2 linked regions of the Homo sapiens genome follow. The protein of the gene in region 1 interacts with the protein of each later gene in a biochemical or structural test. Each region holds a gene or a part of one and is shown on either strand. Other genes may lie near its edges.

The links. The genes of interacting proteins can lie anywhere in the genome.
Region 2: the proteins of KCNA3 (region 1) and DEFB4A form a complex in vitro, tested with the Homo sapiens proteins (one study listed by BioGRID).

What each region holds. Positions count from the first base shown.
Region 1 is NC_000001.11:110,671,965-110,678,888, forward strand, and holds KCNA3 (potassium voltage-gated channel subfamily A member 3), read right to left. Parts: upstream 2,977-6,924; 5' UTR 2,846-2,976; coding exon 1,118-2,845; 3' UTR 501-1,117; downstream 1-500.
Region 2 is NC_000008.11:7,889,741-7,897,237, forward strand, and holds DEFB4A (defensin beta 4A precursor), read left to right. Parts: upstream 1-4,936; 5' UTR 4,937-4,972; coding exon 4,973-5,030; intron 5,031-6,733; coding exon 6,734-6,870; 3' UTR 6,871-6,976; downstream 6,977-7,497. UniProt on the Homo sapiens protein: Exhibits antimicrobial activity against Gram-negative bacteria and Gram-positive bacteria, with highest activity against Gram-negative bacteria.

The sequences.
Region 1 (6,924 bases):
TCATAGTTAAAAAATGCATTTGGGATTCATTTCACCTCCTTAGAGTCTCAGACTTAACTTTATTTTTTGTGCGGCTTATTCAAACAGTGGTTTTCCTTATGAAATCATTTAAGTAGGAACCATCTGGAAAGGTTACTGTGGAAACGGCAGGGGCTGGGAGGTGGGGCTAGAGAGCAAGAGATGCCATGACAACCTTTTTCGGGTTTCCCAGGAAACATGGGTTGCTATGGAAACTGCATCAGTCAGGTCCGAATTAGTAACTTCCGCTGGAAGGGGTGTCTGCCACTTTAATCTTCTTGTGATACTGCCGAAGCTTATCTCTCAGATGCATTAGGAAATTTTTTGTTTCTCTCAGCAACACTGAAAACATCTGTTTCTAGACTTTGATAGTTGTTGGGGCTGGGACATATGCACAGAACTTCACAGGAATCTGTTAGTCTAATGCTTTAGAAATGCTTAGCAAGCCCGAAAGAATTAAACTAATTAGTCAGATCAGGACATCTTGGGCATTTCCCTTTATTCAAAGTTGTAGAGACACTTAAAATTCCGGGAAAGGGGATTCAAATAGGAATTTAAGTCAAAAACCAAATAACTCATGGTGGGTTTACAAGTCATTATTCTAGTTAGACTCTTCATCCACATATCTACAGGGTAGGCAACCGAAATACATATTCAATAAATAACGTTGAAAGGTCCATCAAACCGAAGCATCATTTACTACGAATTGATGTGCTTAGGAAAGAAACAACTGCCTTTAAAATTCTGAGGTTAAACAGTTACTCTAACTGTTCTTTAGTTTCATTTCCTCCCAGGATGTACTGCTCTTTTTTAAATAGGGCGTGTACTAGAAATGAAGTTTAACGTAAGTCTGTTGTTTACAATGTTAAGAGAGAGAGGGTAAGAGGGAAAAGGAGAGCTGAGAGAATGCAGCCCACTTGCAAAACAGGCACCTGTTTCAGTATGAAGCAGCAGGGAGAGGGAGAATGAAGTGTGCTTTCCACTTCTTCAGGTCCTTTCCTTGATGAATGGTCTGGAAATGTATAAAACAAGGGCATAGGCAGACCAAGGGGGCACGTTCCACACAATACTGAGCACAGCATGTCACTTGTATCACATATTAAACATCGGTGAATATCTTTTTGATGTTGACACAAGAGTTGGGATTATTGTTCGTGGTGCAGGTGGCAGTGGAATTGCCCGTTTTGAAAGGGGTCTGGGGGAAAGCGCTATGGTTCATACCCCCCTCTTCGATCACCATATACTCCGACTTACTCAGAGTCGAGTTACTCCTTGCTTTTCGGAGCTCCTCGGCTGAAGAGGAGAGGTGCTGGCAACTTCCCACGTGCATGTACTGGGATTGCTCTTCCCCTTCTGTCTCCCGGTGGTAGAAGTAATTGAAGTTGGAAACAATCACGGGAACTGGCAATGCGATGGTCAAGACACCGGCGATGGCACAGAGAGATCCCACAATCTTGCCCCCTATGGTCACTGGGTGCATATCGCCGTAACCCACTGTTGTCATGGTTACCACTGCCCACCAGAAGGCATCCGGGATGCTGCTGAAACCTGAAGTGGGGTCGTCTGCCTCGGCAAAGTAGACCGCGCTGGAGAAAAGGATGACCCCAATAAAGAGGAAGAAGATGAGCAATCCCAGCTCCCGCATGGACGCCTTCAGCGTTTGCCCGAGGATCTGCAGCCCCTTGGAGTGGCGCGACAGCTTGAAGATGCGGAAGACCCTTACCAGGCGGATGACCCTCAGGATGGCCAGAGACATGGCCTGCTGTCCATTGCCCTGTCGTTCGGCCAGCTCGGTACCCAGAGTGATAAAATAAGGAATGATGGCCACAATGTCGATCAGGTTCATGATGTTTCGCGAGAAGGTGGCTTTGCTAGGACAAGCGAAGAACCGCACCAGCAGTTCGAAGGAGAACCAGATGATGCACAGCGTCTCCACCACGAAGAAGGGATCGGAGAAGCTGGAGGCTCCTGCGCGGGACCCCGACGTGCTGTTGCCGGCTGCTTCGAATGAGTCCTGCGACGTCGAGGCGGGGTAGTCCTTCTCGTCGCGGAACTCCGGCAGCGTCTCCAGGCAGAAGATGACAATGGAGATGAGGATGACCAGCACGGACACGATGGCGATGCCCCGGGCCGGCCCGGAGCTCTCGGGGTACTCGAAGAGCAGCCACACCTGGCGCTGGAAGTCGCGGCGGGGCAAGGGCCGCTCCTCCTCCCGCAGGAAGCCCTCGTCCTCGCGGAACTTCTCCATGGCCTCCTCGCCCAGCTGGTAGAAGCGGATCTCCTCGGAGAAAATGTCGATGGGCACGTTGACCGGCCGGCGGATGCGGCCCCCGGACTGATAGTAGTAGAGGATGGCGTCGAAGCTGGGCCGGTTGCGGTCGAAGAAGTACTCGTTGCGGAGCGGGTCGAAGTACCTCATGCGCCGCTTGGGGTCGCCCAGCAGCGTCTCGGGGAACTGGCAAAGGGTCTTCAGCTGCGTCTCGAAGCGCAGCCCGGAGATGTTGATGACCACGCGCTCCCCGCAGCAGTCCTGCTCGCCCGCGGCCGGCAGTGAGGGCGGCAGCGGCTCGTAGCGGTCGCAGCCGCCGCCGCCACAGCCGCCTTGAGGCGGGGCCCCTCCACCATCGGCCACCTCCGGCTCCAGCAGGTGGTCCCCGGGCACCACGGTCATGTCGGGCGGCAGCTCGCGGCCTGCGGCGGGCTCCGCGTAGCCGTGGTTCACCAGCGTGTGGGCACCGCCGCTGCTCGCTGGGCGCTGAGGAGGGTGGGCGCGGTGGCGGGCTGAGGGCGGCGGCGGCGAGCGCAGAAGGCTGAGGCGCTCGTCCATGCGGCGGGGAAGAGGCGGCAGCGGTGAGGCCAGGTCGCTCCTCCTCGCGCTCCCCGCCCTTTCGCCGCCTCCGCCCCCGAGCCGAGCCCACCGCCTGTTGCAGCCAAAGCCGCGATGCTCTGTCTGGGTCTGGCGCGGTCAGCCGGGCTCCCGCACGGGGACGCCTCCTCCCTCCTTCTCGCGCTCTCCGCCCCCTCCCCTGCGGGGCGCGCGCCCGCCTCCGCGTCCCCTTAGGATTCCCGCCCACCGCGCGGGCGCGCGTCCCGCTCTCGGGGGCAGCCGCCGGGCCTGCATTTCTTGCAGCCCTCAAGGCCCCTCGGTGTCAGCGAAAGAGCCCTCATGTTGTACCTCGGCGCCCCGCGGGAATGCCCACCCAGCAGAGCCGGCCCACGGGGAGTCAGGCTGCCGGCCCGGGCCCCTAGGCTCCGCCCGCTTCTGGTCAGCGCCCCTCGCCCCCGGCCCGCCTGGCCGCGTCCCAGTCGCCAGGGTTTTCGGCCCGTGGGCCGGGAGAGCTCCCGCCGCGGCCCCGCGGGCGCCGGCCCCCTGGCCTCCACACCCCTAGGTACAGCCCGGGGAGGGCAGGCGGGCCCAGTGTCCAGGGAGGGAGTGCAGGCCAGGCGGGCGCCCTGGGCCAGAGGCAAGCCTGGCGCCGGCATCCCAGGTTCCCTTGAGGGTCGAGGACCGCCAAACCCTGGGGAGGAGCGGGGGTTTAAACAATTTAGCTTCTGCTAGGATGCGAAGCCAAAGGGAGTAATGGGTGCTGATGGGCTTCGCAAACGGAGTCCGAAGGAAATGGATTGTTAAAGGCGTTCGGGCCCTGCTGCTTTAGTGAATAGTTCACACCCGTTTTCGCAGCGGAGATGTCGGCCACTGGGAAGAATCAAGGACCAAGTTTCTGATTGGGATTAGCAGTGACAGCCTGGTCTTTATCCACTACACAGGTTTCCTGTTGGCGGGGAAATAAGAGGAAAAATGGGAAAGGAAATTCACGAAGTCGAAGTTGTGTGGTTAGAAAGTCCAGCTTTATGACTCAAGCCTGTCGTGGAAGGGATGAGAGCAGGACCTGTACCTAGACTTTTTACTTAATATTTTGGCACTGCCCTTGTGGTAGGGAATTTGCAGCGCTCTAGTTGTTAAACTGGAAGGACATTCATTCTGCAACTTGTACCTCTTGCTTGATCTGGGCCCAGAGATAACTTACATGTATCTTCTTTAAACTTATTTTTCCAAATTATTGTGGTTACTTTGAACACAATTTGTTTCCAGAAATTTTAGCAATCTAATATAACTCAACCCTAGGCTTTAAAAAGTCTGTTTTTTATTGTATCATTCAAATCATTTACAGAAGAGGAACTATTGTCTAGACAGCTCCTCACCCACCCAAAGTTAGCTGACAATTCAATTTTAAGTAAGTGATTTGTGGTCAATACTTCCCACCACCACTCCCAACCATGGGGTTCTCTAGGGCACAGAGTAGGTCCTAGCCAACTTATATTTCTAGCAACTACCAAAGTGCCTTGTAAATGGTGGAGACTTGGTACATACTTGTCAGATTGAATTCCCCAAGGAGTGTCTCTTTGCGTTGCTATCTGCTCTGGAGTTTCAACATTTCTTCTTTTTGAGCCCAAGATGCTGCTGTGATTCCTAGGATGAGGAGTGAGGAAAAACTGAGCTCACCATAGAAAACACTGCTCATTTATTCCATAGGATTTCCACCTCCGGCTCTCCTGGGCACAACAGGCACCCATGTCCTTTTATTGTCCCTTCATCTTCCGTTTCACCTCCTGGTCAGTGCCAGACAATGCAGGCAGTCACTTATGTTGTGGAATGGCAAAACTGGGCAACCACGTAAAACTCTTTCTCTTACAAAACTCCAGAACACTGGAATGTGACAGCCACCTCATTATTTTGCGTATATATTTTGAGCTGGTGATTAGAGTAGCAGTATAATCAATCATTCATATATTTAAATCTTAGAATGAGACAGACTGCTTGCTGCAATGATAGCTCATGGAAAGGCAAAGACCCTATTTTTAAAGACCAGATGTTTCATGTACTTCTATGTCTGACTTAGAAAATGATTTATTCCTTCTTTTGCAGGAATTAGTACTGAAATTAATATTAATCAATGGCAAGGAAGACCAGAGCAGAGGATAGTCCTGTGACAAATGGTCACAAGCTTCTCCCAGCTGTGAAATGTCTTTCCTTCATAAGTGACTATTTCCATTCCCTTTCATGTATTTGCCTTGTCTGGAAGACTTTGATTATGTGCTTCTTAGGACACATATAAAGTCCTTACTTTGTATTTGGGGCCCAGAGAAGTTTAGCAATTTGCTTAAGCTCACATAGCTAGTTAGCAGCAGAGCTGGGCCTAAAATCTTGGACCATTTCCAAATCCAGTGTTTGCTTTACTGTATCACACTGTGCAACGCTTGTGTTGATCACTGTGAGTACTTAATATACTAGATTTCTAACAGCAGCCTATTTGCTTCTGATTGCCGACTAGTTCACTTCAATTCATATTTATCTTAACTGAAAACCACTCCTTCTGACGGCTCGTCTGTTGTCTATAGAAAATGAGTTGGTGGGCTCATTCTAGCCCTGTTGGACAGCCGAACCCATCACAACAAATCAATGCCAAAAATGGCATTTCAAGAGGAAAACATAGCATTTATTTAGTACCCCCAACAGAGTAGCTCAAAGTGATTTGAAAATGTCTCATTAATCCTCATAACACCCCTGTGGGATAATAATAATATTATTATAACGTTTAGGCGTAGAACTGTGGCAAAGCCAACAGCTTCTCTGAGCATGTGCAGGATTTCCTCATATTTCAGTCTGCAATACTAGAGCCTGACTAAAACCGTCAGGTTTGCAAACAGCAAGGGTAAATAAATCTTGGTGTTTGGCCTTTCTGTGTTGCTCTAGGCATAGTTTGTGTTTCCTACTGACCACATCAATCCCAGAAATAGTTCACCAGTTGTTTGCCAGATGGTAAGCAGCATTTAGGATTAGCTCAGAAGTGTTTGAGAGTGGGACAAGGCAGGGCTAGAGGTCCTGATCCACAATTACAGATAAATGAATGGAGAAATAGCACCTAGTAACAGTGTAAAAGCGTTCCTATTTCTCCACATCCTCTCCAGCATCTGTTGTTTTCTGACTTTTTAATGATCGCCATTCTAACTGGCATGAGATGGTATCTCATTGTGGTTTTGATTTGCATTTCTCTAATGACCAGTGATGGTGAGCTTTTTTTCATGTTTGTTGGCTGCATAAATGTCTTCTTTTGAGAAGTGTCTGTTCATATCCTTCACCCGCTTTTTGATGGGATTGTTTTTTTCTTGTAAATTTGTTTAAGTTCCTTGTAGATTCTGGATATTAACCCTTTGTCAGATGGATAGATGGCAAAAATTTTCTCCCATTCTGTAGGTTGTCTGTTCACTCTGATGATAGTTTCTTTTGCTGTGCAGAAGCTCTTTAGTTTAATTAGGCCCCATTTGTCAATTTTGGCTTTTGTTCGCATTGCTTTTACTCATGCAGTCTTTGCCCATGCCTATGTCCTAAATGGTATTGCCTAGGTTTTCTTCTAGGGTTTTTATGGTTTTAGGTTTTACGTTTAAGTCTTTAATCCATCTTGAGTTAATTTTTGTATACTGTATAAGGAAGGGGTCCAGTTTCAGTTTTCTGCATATGGCTAGCCAGTTTTCCCATTTATTAAATAGGGGAGTCTTTCCTTATTGCTTGTTTTTGTAAGGTTTGTCAAAGATCAGATGGTTGTAGATGTGTGGTGTTATTTCTGAGGCCTCTGTTCTGTTCTGTTCCATTGGTCTATATATCTGTTTTGGTACCAGTACCATGCTCTTTTGGTTACTGTAGCCTTGTAGTATAGTTTGAGGTCAGGTAGTGTGATGCCTCCAGCTTTGTTCTTTTGCTTAGTATTGTCTTGGCTATATGGGCTCTTTTTTGGTTCCATATGAAATTTAAAGTAGTTTTTTATAATTCTGTGAAGAAAGTCAGGGGTAGCTTGATGGGGATAGCATTGAATCTATAAATTACTTTGGGCAGTATGGCCATTTTCA
Region 2 (7,497 bases), on another chromosome or scaffold:
AACACAGCTGTGAAGGAGTCACACTGGGCTGTGCCAGGAGAAAAGAAGCAGCTGCAACCGTAGGAATCTTCATGGGAACAGTCAGCCCAGCTGTCCTTGAGCAACCAGGCACATATTCCCTAAGCCTTGGTGGCTTCTTCCCCAGGGACACAGGTGCTGCATTTCACAGTGACTTTCCTATTTCAGAGTAATTTCACCTCCTTCTCTAACAAGGCCTCACAAATGTACTGAGAGCTAGAGAGGACAACAAGTGAAAAACCACAGTGCTATCGGTGGTTCCTGGGATTGGAACAGGTGTGTAGGAAAAATTCACTCTCTTTTATGGGTGAGTTTTTAAATGTGAGTGTATTACTTTTATAATAATAATGTTAAGCATAGTAGTCATTAAGAATGTATCGATCAGGAATGAAGTCTCACATGAAAAAGATGGCAACCAGTCCCTTAATTCAAACTCTAAGCCCCAATAAGGTTCTTCTCATAGTACCATGACATTTCCTTAAGAATATTTACTCAACAAATTAAGAGACATGACAACCTGATTTGATGTGCAAATCTAGATTAAACATGTATCCAGAAACATCAACAGCCATGAAGCCATGGTTGGAACAATTGGAGAAATGTGAAATATTGACAAGATAATAAATAACATTGAGGAACTAGTTTTCTTAATGTGTGTAAATTGTATTGTGTTTGATGTGGGAATGTCCCCTCATATGTAAGAGATTCTGCTGAGATAATTACAGTGAAGTGTCATGATGTTTGCGTCTTTCTTTTTTAACTTTAAACAAATTTTTAGTACACAAAGGTTGTCACATAATTGGAAGTTTCTCTACTTTGTACACAATTATTCTCACTCTGCACAGAAAGGCTGCTTAACTTCTCATTTGGTGGTTGCAAGCACTAAAATCCTGATTTTAACAGAATAGACTACTATTCATTTTTACTAAAAAATGCCTCAGTGATTTAAGTTGAAAACAGTACATCAGTACATGGCTCTTGTACCCAGTGTCAGGAATGTACAAGATCTTTCTATTCAAAAATACAAACTAAATTATCTGTAGGCATGGATGACAGCTGTAAACCATTATATATTTTGTCAGTTGAAACCAGTAACTGATGGTTATAGTGGTTTCTTAAACATCAGCCAGCCTTTTCTTCATTTTCTCCAACTGACTTCTCTGAAGTTATTGGTGAGGAACACTGCCTTGGGCTTCCTATCACAATTCATTAATAAAGGTAAAGCACTATTCTAGGAATTAGAACAGGCCACCTCCCATTCCACACATTGCACCCATTCCAGGGCTGTTCCCTTCTTTAGGAATTTTTGTGACTACAACAGCTGCTGTAGTTAATAGAGAGGCCATGCCAGCAGCATCCAATAAAGCAGTTCTCACAACCTTTGTTGGGTCAATAATGTCTTTTTCCACCATATTCACGACATCTCCTAACATAGTATCATAACCAACTTCTGAGGAACTTTGCATAATTTTCTCAACTATCAAAAATCCATCAACACCTGCATTCTTAGCAATAGTCATTGCTGGAATTTTGAGTGTTCTTTTAATAATTTCTATGCCAATTATTTTATCTTCATTAGCTGGAGTGAATGAGTCCAAGGCTGGAATGCATCGAAGCAGGGCACAACCCCCTCCCTAAACAATGCCTTCTTCAACAGCAGCTCTTGTAGCATTAAGTGCACCTATAACTCTGTCTTTCTCTTCATTCACTTCAACATCACTTGTCCCACCAACCTTCAGCACAGCTACTCCATCTGAAAGTTTCTCCATTCAGTTTTTCCTTTTCGTATTCACTAGTTGTGACATCTGACTGGTCAATGATTTCTTGAACACATTTTTCAATTTGAGACTTGTTACCTTTTCCTTTTAAGAGCATGGCATCATCTTTGATCACAGTGACCTCTCCAACTTCTCCTACATCACGAGGCTGAACGTCTTCAAGATTTAGTGTCAGCCCTCTTCTCCAAACACTGTACCACCAGTAGCAATAACCGTATCTTTAAGCTGGTTCTTTCTATTGTCACCAAACCCTGGAGCTTTGACTGCCACAACCTGAAGACCAACCTTTAGCCTATTCAGGATGAGTGTAGTTAGAGCTTCTCCATCAATGTCTTCAGCAATTATGACCAAAGGCTTACAGTAAGCATTGGCAATTTCAAGAGCAGGTACAATGGACTGGACACTAGAAATTTTCTTTTCATGCAACAGAACATAGGCATCCTGGAATTCACATTTCTCACCTTTTGATGTATTAAGAAAGTATGGAGAAATATATCCTCTATCAAATTTTCATGCCTTCAATAATTTCTAATTCATCAGTCAGTGTTTTTCCATCCTTTACTGTGATGATGCCCTTTCTTCCAAACTTTTTCATTGCATCAGAGATGATGTTACCAATTTCTTTGTCTCCATTTGCAGAAATTGTAGCAACCTGTGCAATTTCTTCAGGTTTGGTCACAGGTTTAGACTGCTTTTTAAGTTCAGCAATTACAGCATCAACAGCTAACATCACACCTCTCTTGATTTCCACTGGATTAGCACCTTTGCTAACCTTCTGGAAGGCTTATTTGGAAATAGAGCATACCAGTACAGCAGCAGTGATAGTGCCATCCCCCAGTCTCTCCATTTGTGTTATTGGCAACATCTTGGACAAGTTTAGCTCCAATGCTTTTATATTTATCCTTTAAGTCAATTGACTTTGCATCAGTCACACCATCTTTTGTTACTTTGGGACTTCCCCAGCTATGTTCAATAATTACTGTTCTTCCCTTTGGCCCCATTGTAATGGCTACAGCATCGACAAAAAGTCTACACTTTGAAGCATTAAGGCTCAGACATCAGCACCAAATTTTACATCTTTACCATCACTTCAAGTGAGGTGAGGAGCCAGTAGCCTGGACACTGGTCTCATCTGGTGAAAGACTGTGGGTAATGGAAGCATTTCTGTGGGGTGGTGGCAGGACATGTGCATGGTGAGGCAGGTCATCAGCAGCAAGTGAGAGCTGCCTCTTACTTTCTAAAGGTGACATAGCAAGTATACAAAAAAAAAATAAAATATTAATTTAGGCAGAGCACATAAAGGCTTTATTTCATATTCCATTTCTCTGTATGCTTTCTTCACCAGGAAGAAATAGTTTTAGTGTCAGGAATGAATGAGTCTGCCCCTCAATTCCAGCCTGCTCAGCACACAAGGAAACAAAGCCCTGACAATCAGAGTGACTCCCTGGTGACTAAGCTCCAGTCCTGGATGCATATTTGTTTAGCAGTTCTGACAGCATCTGACCCAGCCCTCTCTTTGCATACCCCACCAGAACCTTCTTTTTTTTTTTTTTTCTTTGAGACTGAGTCTTGCTCTGTCGGAAGCGATTCCCGTGCCTCAGCCTCCCAAATACCTGGAATTATAGGCGTAAGCCATCATGCCTGGCTAATTTTTGTATTTTTCATGGAGATGGGGTTTTGCCATGTTGGTCAAATTGGTCTCACACTCCTGACCTCATGTGATCCACCTGCCTCAGCCTCCCAAAGTGCTGGGATGACAGGTGTAAGCCACCATGCTAGGCTCAGAAATTTCCTTTTATAAAAATGTCATTAAGGATCTTGGCTGCACAATATCGTTACCAGCTTCCTTTAAATCCACCTCTGGCCTGCCAGGAATCAGGGTTCTTCAGAACCTGACATTTTAAATGAAGAGGTCAGGCAGGTCATGAGGAAAGCCTCATTGTCCCCATGTCTCTGTCACTGCTGCACCCCTGAGACATCACAGACATGGACACTGGGGCCTGCTTGTTTCTCAAACTGCCCTTAGATCGAAAGAGGGAGGAACCAGGATGAATGCCACTCATTTTCCCAAGAAAGGCCCTCTCCTGAGTGCCCGGGATGGGGCTCTGTCCATTGCCTGGGGCCGCCAATTGCTACTCTGGGTTACGGAAGAAGGACAGGGTCCTGAGAGACACCAGAGACCTCACACAGCCCTGAAAACATGGGGCTCCTTCATAAGTGTTTCCCATCACCAACAGGGAGACCACGTGGAGGCCTTGCAGCCCTACTCGGTGCTTCTCCACCAAATCCCAAGGGCAGTGACGCTGACGTCTGTGGAAAGCAGAGAAAGCCCTGGCTCCCAAAGCCCTGAAGTCCTGTGGAGCTGACATTCCCTGAGTGACGGTGTGAATGGAAGGAACTCAAGTGCGGGTGGTAGGCCACCTCCTGGCCCAGGCCTGGGTGAACTCTGAGGGGACACATGTAGTCACAATCCCATCCTCCCATTCTCCTTCTCAGAGGAAGGAAGTGGGCATCCATCTGCCTCATCTCTCTCCCGTGGGGAAGATGGGGAGTTTCAGGGGAACTTTCACATAAATTTCACCAGCTCAGATCTCCTGTGAGGATGGGGCCCACCATGCTCCCGGTGCTGCCAGAGGCCCTGAGCCCCTCCAGGGTCCCTGGGTTTGAGCCAGCCCTGTATCATCCCCAGGAGCTGAATGTCCGAGCAATGGATAGAATTAGATGGAAAGAGCTCTCAATTTGGCCTGAGACTGTCCCCAGATACTCAGGAAAAACAGGACGTCGCACAGAGTGGGCAGCAGGTGAGTGGCAGGTTATAGGTCCTGAGTTTGAGTTTGTTCTCACGTGAGACAGACCCAGCCCCTCACTCCATTCACACACTGGGTTTTAAATGGTGCAAGATAGGAGGAATTTTCTGGTCCCAAGAGCAGGAGGAAGGGATTTTCTGGGGTTTCCTGAGTCCAGATTTGCATAAGATCTCCTGAGTGTGCATTGTTCTTTGAGGACCATTCTCTGACTCACCAGGTAAGTGGCTGAATTCTAACCTCTGTAATGAGCATTGCACCCAATACCAGTTCTGAACTCTACCTGGTGACCAGGGACCAGGACCTTTATAAGGTGGAAGGCTTGATGTCCTCCCCAGACTCAGCTCCTGGTGAAGCTCCCAGCCATCAGCCATGAGGGTCTTGTATCTCCTCTTCTCGTTCCTCTTCATATTCCTGATGCCTCTTCCAGGTGAGATGGGCCAGGGAAATAGGAGGGTTGGCCAAATGGAAGAATGGCGTAGAAGTTCTCTGTCTCCTCTCATTCCCCTCCACCTATCTCTCCCTCATCCCTCTCTCTCCTTCCTCTCTCTGTGTGTCCCCTCCATCCTTTTCTCCTGCTTCTCTCTCTTCTTCCCTCTCTCTCTTTTTTTCTGTCTTTCTTTTTCCTCTCTCCCTAGAGCATGTCTTTCTTTCTTTCTCTTTCCTTTCTTCTACCCACACTTTTAGACTGAGTAGACTGAATGCCCTATTTAATTGAACCAAGCATTGCTTCCTTCAATAGAAAAGGAGTTTGAGAACCCAATGGACAACTCACTCGTTCTTCTAAGCCAATATGAAGGAGCCCAGTAGTTTGTAAATATCATCTCTTCACTGCTTTCCATGCTACAACTGCTGAGACTATGGTTGAAACCTGTTAGGTGACTTTTTAAATAAAAGGCAGAAATTTTGATTTTATCTAAAGAAAGTAGTATAGAATGTCATTTTCTAAATTTTTATATTTAAAGAGTAGATACTGCAACCTAGAGAATTCCAGATAATCTTAAGGCCCAGCCTATACTGTGAGAACTACTGCAGCAGACACTCTGCCCCCAGGACTTTTCTGATCAGAGGCCCTGAGAACAGTCCCTGCCACTAGGCCACTGCAGGTTCACAGGACAGGGACAGCCCATTGAAACCAACTTTTAAACCTGGATGCCTAACCTTCATTTTCTCCTTGATATTATGAAAATAAAATAAAAACCATGAAAGGATAAAAGAGGGAGAGTGGAAGGGAAGGATGGAGAAAGGGAAAAAGAAAATTTGAGAGTAAATCCTAAAACAATTAATCTAATAGATATCATCTTGTGAAATCCTCATTTTACCAATCTTATTTATGAGTCCTGGGTTTTGTGAGAACAATGGGGTTCTGAGAGGCACCAGAGACCTCATATTTTCCAAAACCTAGAACAGTATAATGAAGGAAGGCGGGGAGGCAGGGAGGCAGGGAGGCAGGCTGGTGGGAGGGGGAGGGAGGGAGGGAGGGAAGGAGGGAAGGAGGGAGGGAGGGAGGGAAGGAGGGAAGGAGGGAGGGAGGGAGGGAAACAAAAAGAAGAATGAGGTTGAAACCAGGACTTAGATATTAGAAACAAGCCATTACAAAATTTATTTCTATGGTTAATTGTGGTTTTCAACTGTAAGTTACTTGGTGTTAATTTCCTATTAAACAATTTCAGTAAGTTGCATCTTTTTTATCCCATCTCAGATCAAATACTTAACAGACTAAATGATTTGAAAAAGCAAAAGTTTACTGGCTTGTGTGTGTTAAAATGGAGGTATGGTGGCTTTGATATTATCTTCTTGTGGTGGAGCTGAATTCACAAGAGATCGTTGCTGAGCTCCTGCCAGACCCCACCTGGAGGCCCCAGTCACTCAGGAGAGATCAGGGTCTTTCACAATCAGGTTCTACAAAAATAAACATCCCCCAAACCACAGCAGTGCCAGTTTCCATGTCAGAAACTTAGATCCAAATGACTGACTCGCGTCTCATTATCATGATGGAAAAGCCCAGGCTTGAGAAAGAAGCCCGCTGCGGATTTACTCAAGGCGATACTGACACAGGGTTTGTGTTTTTCCAACATGAGTTTTGAGTTCTTACACGCTGTTTGCTCTTTTTGTGTGTTTTTTCCCTGTTAGGTGTTTTTGGTGGTATAGGCGATCCTGTTACCTGCCTTAAGAGTGGAGCCATATGTCATCCAGTCTTTTGCCCTAGAAGGTATAAACAAATTGGCACCTGTGGTCTCCCTGGAACAAAATGCTGCAAAAAGCCATGAGGAGGCCAAGAAGCTGCTGTGGCTGATGCGGATTCAGAAAGGGCTCCCTCATCAGAGACGTGCGACATGTAAACCAAATTAAACTATGGTGTCCAAAGATACGCAATCTTTATCCTAGTAATTGTGGTCATTGGATGATGTTGGTTTGGGCAGGCCATCTCTAATATCCTTGAAACACCTTTTTCTGCTCTCCAGGAAGGGGTCAGGGCTGCCACAGCGGGGCTTGGAGTGCTTTCCAGGGTCACAGGCATCTGTATTCTTTGGATTCCTTGACCTTCCCCATTTATTCCCGGCATTTTCCTAAAACGTGTGCTTTGCTCCTCCTGCATCCTCCCCTTGCATGCCCTCACCTATCCCACATCTTCCCTAAAAAAAGCAAGCCCAACTCAAAGACCAGTTCCCTCATGGAATCATAGTGGATCTGCCAAGGGAGGGGATGCCCAGTCCTCTGTTCTTCACAAGGACTCCCTTCTTCTGGCTAAGGTTTCTTATGCAATTATGCCTCCTACAGAGGTGCGTGAATTTTTAATTCTCCATTTAGCTATGAGATTTCTACTAGTGTGGACTTTGTCTTATTCATTTATGTGCTGGCCATTCATAAACTATTTCATTAATTGGATGGCAAAA